2 separate regions of the Homo sapiens genome follow, and region 2 is linked to region 1. Evidence: fine-mapped expression QTL. A gene starts in region 1. The other region holds a variant in brackets. All regions are shown on one strand. Distances are from middle to middle. Region 1 holds the start of SLC12A5 (solute carrier family 12 member 5). Region 2 overlaps SLC12A5 (solute carrier family 12 member 5).

The links. PIP is the estimated chance that this variant, and not a neighbour inherited with it, causes the effect.
Region 2: its variant is the best candidate, but not a certain one, in a credible set for the expression of SLC12A5 in hippocampus (GTEx, PIP 0.62).

Annotation. Positions count from the first base shown.
Region 1 is chr20:46,026,822-46,032,186 of GRCh38, reverse strand. It overlaps SLC12A5 (solute carrier family 12 member 5), which reads right to left and starts at 2,972. Exons shown (of 26, transcript NM_020708.5): 1 at 2,791-2,972. The coding sequence starts at 2,842.
Region 2 is chr20:46,049,434-46,054,798 of GRCh38, reverse strand. It overlaps SLC12A5 (solute carrier family 12 member 5), which reads right to left. Exons shown (of 26, transcript NM_020708.5): 17 at 5,009-5,177; 18 at 2,929-3,124; 19 at 1,673-1,842; 20 at 1,090-1,221. Among named protein-coding and RNA genes, the nearest start is that of SLC12A5, 23 kb to the right of the region's middle. The variant C/T (reference allele first, on the strand shown) is at 2,585.

The DNA.
Region 1 (5,365 bases):
AGCGCCGAGCCTAGCCGGCCGCGCGCCCGCAGCCGCTTATGTAACGCGGCGCGCAGCGCGGAGCCAGACTCCAGGCCGGATCCGGGCCAGGAGATGAGGGCAGGGGAGAGGGCGGCTAGGTAGGCTAGTTCTGGGTCCCGCCTTTCCAGTAGCTGCCTGGGCGGGACGCCAGGCTCCCGGGACTTGTCAGCCAGGGCTGATTTCGTCCCCTCCCTGAACGCCAGGCGCACTGGTTGAGGGGGATGGGGAATGAGCTTCCGAGTTCTCAAAGGACCAGAACAGCTAAGGGGAAACTCGCCCTGATTCCCCGGAGCCAAGGAGTAAGGGTGATGGCGGGAGCGCCGAGCGGCGCGCGCGCGAGAGGCAGGGCCAGACTGAGGCTGAGCCCTCCCCGCCCCCGCCCCCTGGGAGCTCTCAACCCGAATCGGCTTTCAATTAAGCTGCGGCGGCCAGAGCTCCCGGGGAGGAAACAGGCGAGCGGCGCAGGCTAAGAAGCCTCCCCGGGGCCTGGGGCTGGGCCTGGGGGAATCCCTAGGCCAGGTCCGAGAGGGAGACGGGGCGTCAGACCCCAAGGAGAAAGAAGACCGGGACACATCCCTGGGCTCTTCTTTAGTCCAGAAGTGCCCTCTTGCTCGGGTCATCCCCACCTGCCCGAGGTCAGCAACCAGTTCCTTCCCGTACATCCCCAAGAATCTAGAATCAGAGATGTCAGGGGCTCTTGGCCTGATGGTCCTCTCTCAAGCCCAGAAGGTCCTTAGCACCTCCTACTACCATCTCCAAGCACCGCTTGGAGGAGGGGGGACTTCTCTCTCTGGGACCCACAGCACATGACCCAGGTTCTGGCCATTTGAGTTCCAGGTCCTGGACCCTATGTATAGAAAGAAGGTCTCCAGATGGGTCCGCTGCACTCAGTGTCTAGAAACTAACGGAGAGGGGATAGAACTGAAGCGAGTTCCTAGTTCAACTCTTGCCTCACACACACTGATGCCTCTTTTCTAGGCCTCCTGAGCCCCTGTGGAAACCCCAAGGCCTGGTGAAACCTTGGCAGAGAAAGCGGGTGCTGGGAAATGGGACCATACCTGGTGTCTGAGGGAACAGAGAGATGCTCTCCATCTGAGTCCCCCTCTCAGAGTGGAGGCATCTGAAGGGGATCCCGGATGGAAAGATCCGCGTCGGGATGCCTGGCGCTGCCGCAGACTCAACTTTGCCAAACCCCCTCCCCCTCCGGCCAGAAGCCCGCGGGGGAGGGGGCGGATGCTGGATGAGGTGATCCCAGGGTCACTGGGGAGGTGGATGAGAGGGCCAGCTAGGAGTTCTGGCACCTGTATACCACTCAGCCCCCAGGAGGAATGAGGAGTTGCGGGAAGCGGCGGGGGGTGGGGGGGAGTCAGACAAAGGATCAGGGACCCTGGTGTCCCCAGCCTTTCCAAGCGGCCACTTGGCCCTGAGATCCAGGATCCGGAGGACCTCAGAGTCAAGGTTGCCAATCCCTAGAAGACCCTGCTCTTTCAGCCCTAGGCGCCATCCGCCAGAGGGATCTGCGGGAGTCTAGGCTCATAGGGTCAAGCAGTGCCCAGGGGAACGTTTGAAGGCGCTGAGCGCAGACAGCAGGCGCGGGAGGCGCGCTAGTGCGCAGGGGACGCAGCGCCGCTGGAGAGTGGGGGGTGGGGGTGGCTGACAGCCGTGATGGATGGCTGAGACCGCTCGGGGGCGGCGGGGGGCCTGGGAGCCTGAGGGGGTGGCTGGCCCCAAGACCTCGGAGCAAGGAAGCCGCGGAGGAGGGCGGGGGAGAGCGGGAGCAGCGAAAGGACTTGTCCCAAGCCCCTCGGCTCCTTGCGAGTCTCCGCACCCACCGCAGCGCGTCCGCAGTGTCCGCGTCGCGGCGCTGAGGAATCAGCCACTGGGACCCCATTTCTGAGGCCTCACTGGGGAAGCTAGCAGAGCTAACTAAAAAGACTCCCCCCCGCCCCGCCCTGGACCGCCCCAGGGAACTGAGAGGAGGGGGAAAGAGGGAAGAAAGGAGGGTGATCTTGCTTCCCGTCCTGAATAGGAACCCACGGGAAAGCGAGAGAGAGATTCTGCAAAGTAGAGCTGAAAATCTATGGAGGAAGTACGCTTCAGTCTGAGGTCGGACCTTGGGAAGCCTTGGGGGAGGGGTCCCAGATTGCACCAAGGGGACAATCTGGGTGTCTTAAGGAGACACCACAGCCCGGACGGGGGGCTGTCATATGGCTCCAAACCCCCTACACACACACACACACACACACACGCACACACACACATACGCACGCGCGCGCACACACACACACACACACACACACACACACAGCCACCTCTTCCCCCATCTTCCAGATGGAAGTCTTAGAACGAGGGACTGCAGCAGACTGCGCCCCCCGGCTCCACGGGTGCCTGCTCTGCGCCAGGACGCCGGGGTCCCCTGTCGGGGAAAGGAGCCCTCCTCCCGCCGTCGAGCTCCACATCAGCCCATTCTAGGTCTTCTATCCCCTTCCCACCGCCTCCTCGGTTTAGCTAACCCAAGTCAGCCCGAAGCCGTGGGCAGCGATAATCCCCCGGCCCGCAGCTCTGCCCCCGGGCGCGGCGCATTCCAGCACCTTGGACAGCGCCCGGAGCATTCCAATGGAGCTGAGCTCCAGGCTGCAACTGGCGCCCACCGCCCGGGTCAGTCCCAGCCTCCTCTCTGAAGGAGGTGGCCCCCGCTCCGCCTCTAACCCCAGAGCTGCCTCCTCTCCTCGCTGCCCCCTCCCCCGCCGCCCCCGGACCACAGCTTACCCGGGTTGGCTCCCCCATCGCCGTCCTCGCAGTCCGTCAGGTTGTTTAGCATGGTGGCGGCGCGGCCCCTGGTCCGGGGATGGCTGCGCCGCCTCGCCCGCGCCCCTCTACCCGCCTTCGCCGCTCTCTCGTTCGCTGTAGCTCTGTCTCGCTCTCCGCTCCACGGAGGAAGAAGCTGCAGTGCCCGCCCGCCCGGCGCACACACACTCGCACACGGACACACGCTCACACCCGCGCGCGCCCCCTCTCAGCAGCGGCGCTGCTCACCTCATCCCGTATGCAGGAGGCGTGAGCCACTGGCGGGGTTTTGGGGGGAGAGCGGGAGGGAGAGAGAAGAGAAGATGAGGGGCGGGCAGAGCCCGACTAGTGGCCCCCTTGCACAAAAACTGGGGGATTGCGTGGGTGGGATGAAGGGGGTGCTTCGGGGGACAGGGCCTCGCCTCCCTTGAGCAGACGCAGCTCCCCCCACCCACTCTCCGGGCGGGGCCCGGCACGTGGGCAGGTGCCATCCCGCGCCCTAAAAATAACGGCAGGGAACTAGGTCGCGGCCGCGGGGAGGCGGCCCCGCAGCGGCTGCTTGACTGGGGGTCTGGGGTAACCCCCAGGGGGAAGATAAAGGGCACTGAAGTGGCCGTGGAGGTGCGCCATGGAACATGGGGCCCTTGGGAAGCCTCTCTGCAAGACTGGAGAGGCCAGCCCTGAAGTGGGGGAGGAGAACCAGACCCTCTTTCATACCACTGCTCAAGAGATTGGAGCTGGAGGCATGTAGAGCCCAGGGCCCATAATTAAGCAATGTGCTACCCCCAGGGGCGTTCAGGTCACTGGGCTGACTGACCCAATCTGTCTTAAAATGGGTGGGGTAGCGCCTGAGAAGTTCCAAGGAACTCTCTCATTGTGCTTAGACTGACAAGAGTCCCAGCGTCCCACCCCCAAGACAAGTCCCTGGAGCCCACAGCCAGGGACCTTCTGACTGCGGACTGATCTAGAGATAAGACCTGGTGAGGAGGAGCAGAAGAGGCAGCAGTGAGTTTCCAGGGAGCACTGACTTTCCATCAGGGATGGTGCAGCCTCTAGGGAGGACAGGCCGGTCCTGAGGCTGGCCAGGGACAGAGTGGGGGAGGGCGGAATGAGGCCGCCTGTCGGTTTGAGACCAGATTTTCTCCTGGGGCAGAAGTGTCTAATCCCCTAATCCAGGATTGCTTTCTGAGGCTTCCAGAGCCGACATGCTCTCTGTCCTCCTCCCCTCTTCCCTTAGGCCAATCCCCCAGAAGCTTGATCATCCTGGGACCCCTCAGAGCCCCTAGAGTCCAGGTTTGAGCCAGTGGTGCAGACATCTCAGGAAGTGGCATCAGAGGTTTGAAAGCTTTGAGTCTCTAGAAGATCTAAACATCTGAGGGTGGGAGCAGATCGGGGTAAACAATCTTCACACTGGTACTAGCTCTCTCCCTGGCTCTCTAAGTTCCAGAAAAGTTCTTCGGTTGGGAAAAGATCAGTCATTGTATCTTACACACAGCTTTCATTTCACAGATGAAAAAACTAAGGCCCATAGAGGGAAAATGACTGCCTGTGGACATAATGCCAGTGGATGGCAGAATTTGGTCTAGCATCCAGTTTGCTTTACTCCAGTTTAGGACTCTCTTCATTGATAGAACTTATAAAAGTCGTCTTGCCTCCATAGAAGAGACAAGGATGCAGTCATATCCATGCCCCTCAGCAGCCTCTGATTATTAGCTCCTGAAAAACAAACAAACAAACAAACAAACAAACAGGCACTACATCTGAGATGTGCTTTATTCCTTTTCTTGTGCTCAGGCTTCAGAGGTGCAGGGCTAGAATGGACTCTTGGCTTGCAACTGAAGGGGAAGCCTCCAGAAAACCTGCAAAAATCCTAAAGAGCCATTCATATCCCTGGAGACCGGGGTATAGGACAGGACTTTTTTCAGGACCATGGACAGGATCCAGGGCTCAGCTTTACTTGTATTAATACAATTTGTCAGTGGCTTCAGATTGGGTCAACCGTGGAGTTTTCAGCAGCTGACTCAAAAGTGCCTCTGAGGGACCTACCAATCAAGTATCGCTGCCACTTGGTTTTTTGGATACCCAAAGGACCTTTCAGGGTGGAGAGTTAGCTATTCAGACAAGTTGTGGGCACTGGTATTCTTGGCTCTCCCAGAGAAAAAAACCACCAAAAGGGTGAGATGAGTTTGAATTGGTGACAGAGGTTAAAAGAAGCCAGTGTTCAAAAATTTTTAAGCATGCCACTCCACTCTACACACACACAGCACTAGCAGCAGCAGCAGCACTGTGTTCTACTACTCTGCAGAGATGCATAACAGTAAAACACGTGTAGCATGTTTGTCAGAGAAGTGCTGTAGAATGAAGGAGATGCTAAGGTTTTTCAGTAATCCTAGGTCTGGCATGTTCCCCTGGGGTTATTTTCCTTCATTTGTGGTCCAGCTTTGGCCACTCAGAGACTAAGCCCATGCATGGGGAAACCTAGATTCTAGGGAGTACGGGTGAAGGCAGGAGTGATTCCTCTTTCCCTGGGGAACCCATCTGTCCACCTTCACTAGAG
Region 2 (5,365 bases), 23 kb before region 1:
GCCTAGGGCTTCCCTACCCAATCATTAATTTTGTCAAGGGTTGTAGGAGGCAAGGACGTAGCAGAGAGGGCAATGCTCTTGCAAGGCAGGCAGCTCATTCCCTCCTCAGCCCAGCACAGGACCAGGCATATGAATGGATGAACTAATGAATGAGTGGATTAATTAATCACCTGGGTGAATGGAGAAGGGAAAGAAGAAAAAGAACAAAGCGATGAATGAATACATGCAAGAATGAATGGGAGAGTGAGTGAATGAATACTTCAATGAATACATGGGTAGATTAATGAAAACACAGAGGGATGGGTGGATGGACACATGAATTGAGAGGATGGTTGGACAAGATGCTCTACAGGATAATCACCAGGGGCACACGCTCTAGAGCCAGCCTGCCTGGGTTTGAATCCTGCCTCCACCAGGTACTCTGTGTTATTGGGCAAATTACAGTCATATGCCAAATAACACCATTGTATGTGCGTCAATGGCAGACTGCACATAAAATGGTGTTCCCTTAAGATTACTGTATTTTTGCTGTATTTTTTCTATGTTTAGATATGTTTAGACACACAAATACTTCCCACTGTGTTGCCATTGCCTACAGTACTCAGTAGAGTAACATGCTGTATAAGTCTGTAGCATAAGAGCAATAAGCCTTTGTGTGTAGTAGGCTGTACCAGCTAGGTGTGCATAAATACACTCTATGATGTTCACACAACAAAATCACCTCACAACACATTTCTCAGAACATATCCCTGTTGTTAAGCAATGAATACGTGACTGTACTTCTCTGCACTTCATATTCCTAATCTGTAACATGGAAATGCTGATAATTGTATCTATCTCATTGGTCGTTGTTGGAATTTATGTACATATAAAGTGCATAGAACAGTGCCTGGCATATAATAAGCACTAGACATGGCTACTTTTATAGAGAAGGGAGGGATGGCTGAATATGTGAGAGGCTAAGAGATGGATGAGGGGGAAAGGATCCAGCATCATAAGCTGATGGGTGTTAGAGTTGCCCTACTTGGTGCTGGGGCCAAGAGGAAAGAGGGCCAGGTGGAACCCCAGCGGTGTCTCCTGGGGACTCACCATCTCCACCACCTCGACCTCCGCAGTGATGCGTAAATGATACAGAAATGTGGTCAGATCCTTCTTCATCTGGATGCTATTGTCATCCATCTGGGCCACAGTGAAGATACGCATCTTGCACTTCCGCCAGACCTGCAGGCGATGAAGGGGATTCAGAAAGGTCCAGCCCAGATGTGATGAGGAGATCCAGGGCCAGGCCCTGTCCGCTCACCCTTCCCCTCTTCCCACCCACTCCTCACACATACATGCAGACCCCAAATCCTCTGTCTTTGGGGCCACTCTCTACAAAACCTTCCCTGCTTAGGTCTGAGGGTCCCCCATTAAAGAAAGCATCACTGGCTTGGGCTAAGCATTGCTCTCCTTACAGCAGTGCACCTGCAAGAGGAGAAACCATCAGTTCCTAACATCTCAGAATGAAGTAGGTCAGCAGATCCCTTTCCCAGGAGTTTACAGGGGAGGAAGGACACGGAAGCTGACCCTGGCCAGAGCCCCTGAGTCTGACCTGCAGTTGTGCACATATGCACACAAATGCATACATGCATACACACACTCACACGTGCATACACTCACGCACACAACTCACCTTGTGGTGCCGCAGCAGGAAGGGCAGCAGCATGAGCATGCCTCCATCGTGCACAATCCACCAAACGTCGATGCTGCCCTCAGAGAAGCGCTCAGGGTTCCCAGGAAACATGGAAACGTTCTTGGTGACCAGCAGGGCTAAGTGGCCAGCTGTGGTTTCCCGGACCAGCTCTGAGGGAGGCCAAGGAGAGGGCCAGAGGGGGAAACAGTGACTCTGGTTCTCCCAACACCCAGCAGCAGCCACAAGGGCTCCTGGCAGCCAGCACTCCACCCCACTCCAACTGGCCTTGGCCATGGGCTGAGTGGTCAGAAAACCAGCATCTACTTGGGCCCCATCATATATTTATTGTTTAGATCTAGGAACGTCTATCAACCTCTCTAGGCCTCAGTTTCCCCACCTGTCAAATGGCAATAACACCACCTGCCCTTTCTGATTACTAAGAGCCCATCATGTATGACCACACTGAATCCTCCCAACACCTTGTAACCATGATCTACCTATAAAGGAGACAGAATAGCTTGGAGCTAACAGTGTAGCCTCCGGGCTGGTTCAAAACCTGGCTCCCCACTTTGTGACTTGGAGCAAACTTCTTTTTCATTTACTCTGTAGTTTGCCAGGTTGCCCAGCTCAAACTCCTGAGCGCAAGCGATCCACCTGCCTTGGCTTCCCAAAGTGCTGGGATTACAGGCGTGAGCCACCGAACCCAGCTGGAGCAAACTTCTTAATCTCTCTGTGCCTCAGTTTCACATCAAAAAAGATGGAGATAACAATGCGTAGCCCTCCTAGGACTGATGAGAGAATCAGAGAAAGCCTTAACTTGCTGGCACACAGAACTCATTCTAGAAACGTTAGTTATTATATATACTATTACCTACGATTACCAAGAAATCTGATCTCAGAGGGAGTGAGTCA[C/T]GTGTGCACAGTCACACAGCTAGGAAGGACCAGAGCTGAGATGTGGGCCTAGCCTCTGTGACTTCAGAGCTGTAGCTCTTCCCACTGCCCTGCACTGTGTTCCTCCCAGGGCCTGTGAGCGCTGCAGGAGCCAAGACTGTCTCGTTCACAGCGGAGTCCCCAGCGCCCAGCACAGTGGCTGGCACGTGGCCAGCCTTGACTGCTGTCACCTGCATATGCTGAATCCACACTTGGCACGCAGTGCTTGGGAAACCCCTCAGGCCCAAAGGAGCGGAAATCCAGTTCCACCCCTCTACAGCCCCCAGCCCCACCCCTCTTCTGTCCCCAGCCCCCAATAGCGTTACCAATGAAGTTCCTCCACGTCTGATGATCTTCCTTCTGGCGCCAGTTGCGGGGCCAGCCAACAAGCACAGTGTTGTGCTGCAGCCCCCCGAGGCCCCCGGACTGGATCAGATGGGACACGCCATCACGCAAGTTGGAGGAGATCACCACCTGGCAGAAGCCCTTCACCTTCTCTGCCTCCATCAGGCGCCTGATAGACTAGGGGAGGGGGAAAAGACAAGGACCAGCCTCAGGCCTCCCTGGCCCTGGCTGGGCCCATTGTAGCCTCCTTCCCTCCCATCTCTCCCCTCCTTTCATCCCAATCTTCCTGAAGCTCAGCTCTGATCACGTCAGTCTCTGGCTCCAGAATGGCACATGGCTCCCCATCATCTCTGTGCCCCATTCCTTCTTGATCAATCAAGGCTCTTCATGATCTGACCACACTTTCTGCCACCCTCCCACTGCTCATACAGCCCCCCTGCCCGACATGCTCTCCACCATCACCCTGACACAAGCCCCTGCCAAGTTGTACATGACACCCTGTCTGGCCCAGCTCAAATGTCGCCGTCTTCAGATACCACCCCCACCCAGACCAGAATTAAACTGGGCTTCTCTGCACAGCCAGACAATTTGTTTCAACAATCTTTCTAAGTAGCATAATAAGTATTTTAAGGGCTCCCATTTAAACTGTACTATGAGGGAAATAGTCTTATTACTCCCATTTTATAGATGGGGAAACTGAGGCTTGGAGAAAGGAAGACTTGTTTAAGGACACACAGCTAATGTTACTGTGAGGATTCAAGTCAGGGAAGTCTGACTCCAACCCCCACACTCTTAACCACCACCCCTAAGTCAAACAGATAGAAGTTCAACTCCTATCTCTGCCACCTCCTGGCTGTGTGACCTTGGGTGAGTCACCTAACCACCCAAGGGGTCAGGACAAGCTACCTTGTTTAGGAATAGGGAGAACCACATGTCATCATGCACATAGGGCTTAGTTAGTATCCTGCCTGAGGAATTGAAAACACTCAACACATTGTACGACCCTGATGTTATTAACTCTAACAGCATTTATCGACATCCGGTGGGTCTGAGAGCCTTCTGTGTATGCTCTGCCTTCCCCACCAGCCTGTGAGCACCTCGAGGGCTGGGACTTGGTCTTGAACATCTCCATCTCCCCTGTGCCTCGCCCAGTGCCTGGTGCACTGCACATTCTCAGCCACCGCGTGTTGAATGGAACTGACCAGTCAAGGCCTCCAGCTCTGGGCCCTGACAGATCAGTGTGAACAGCCCAGTGAGGCAGAAGCAGCGACTGTCGCAAGCCATCGGGGTGCCCCTCCCCATCTCACCTCTGCTCCTTCGGGCCTCTTTTTCTCTCTCCACTGCTAGCCACAGCCCTGATGGGAGAAAGGCCTGACCCTCAGACAGAACCTACTTCCTCTACTACCCTTGGGATCCAATCACCTCTTTGTGTGCTTAAGGCAGACACTGGCCACCACAGCCCACATTGGTTCTGTAGGCTGCCCTGTAAGCATGGACTAGTGGGTGGAACCAAGAGCAGGTGACACAGAGCAGGGGCCTGAGTTCAAATCCTGATGTTGCTTCCCACCAGCTTTCTGACTTTCAGCAAGCAGCTTTCCGACTTTCAGCAAGCAGCTTTCCCTCTCTGGGTCTCAGTTTCTTCCTGTATCAAATGTGGATACTCACCTTGTCAACCCCAGACTGTAGGGATCAAGAGTCCACAGCTGGGAAATCACCTTGAAAGATTTATACTTTGGCAGGAAGGAGTCTAGAGTAGGAGTTCAAGGAGTCCTAATTTGAATCTTCATTTTCTGTCCTTAGACATATGACCTGACTTGTCTAAGCCTCAGTTTCCTTATCCATAAAATGGGCCCTTCTGCCTCTGATGGTCTTTCATGCTGTGAGTTGAATTCTAAAGAACTCACTGTCTAGGCTCTTAGGCTCTTCCTCTAAGGAAAAGAAAAGAAATGCCTGCACTTCCTTTGATCCTGAAGGTGATGAGGAAGGAAAGTACAAAAGGATAGAGACTGTCTTCCTAAGTGTCCTGACCTTTTCCCAAGCCCAACCAGGGCCTCTGCTCACCTCTTCTGCCCGCTGGGCCTGTGGATGATTTTCCAGAAAGGTGCCCTCAAGGACAGAGCCCACGATGGTCAGGCCCTTCCCCGCCTTCAGCTGGGAGGTCAGTGAGAGCAGCTGGGGGTGCACCACATTCTGGTCTTGGTCCACACGCACCAGCACCAGCAGCTGTGGCCTGAAGAGTGTGCAGAGTCACATAATCCATATACCATGTAACCAACCATCCACACACCATACACCCACCACCAGGTCATCTAGCCATCTCTCCTCTATAACCATCTGTCCCATCCACCTATACCCCTCACCACCCATCCATTCATCTACCCATCAACCCATTTCTCCATTCACCTCACTCACCTATCT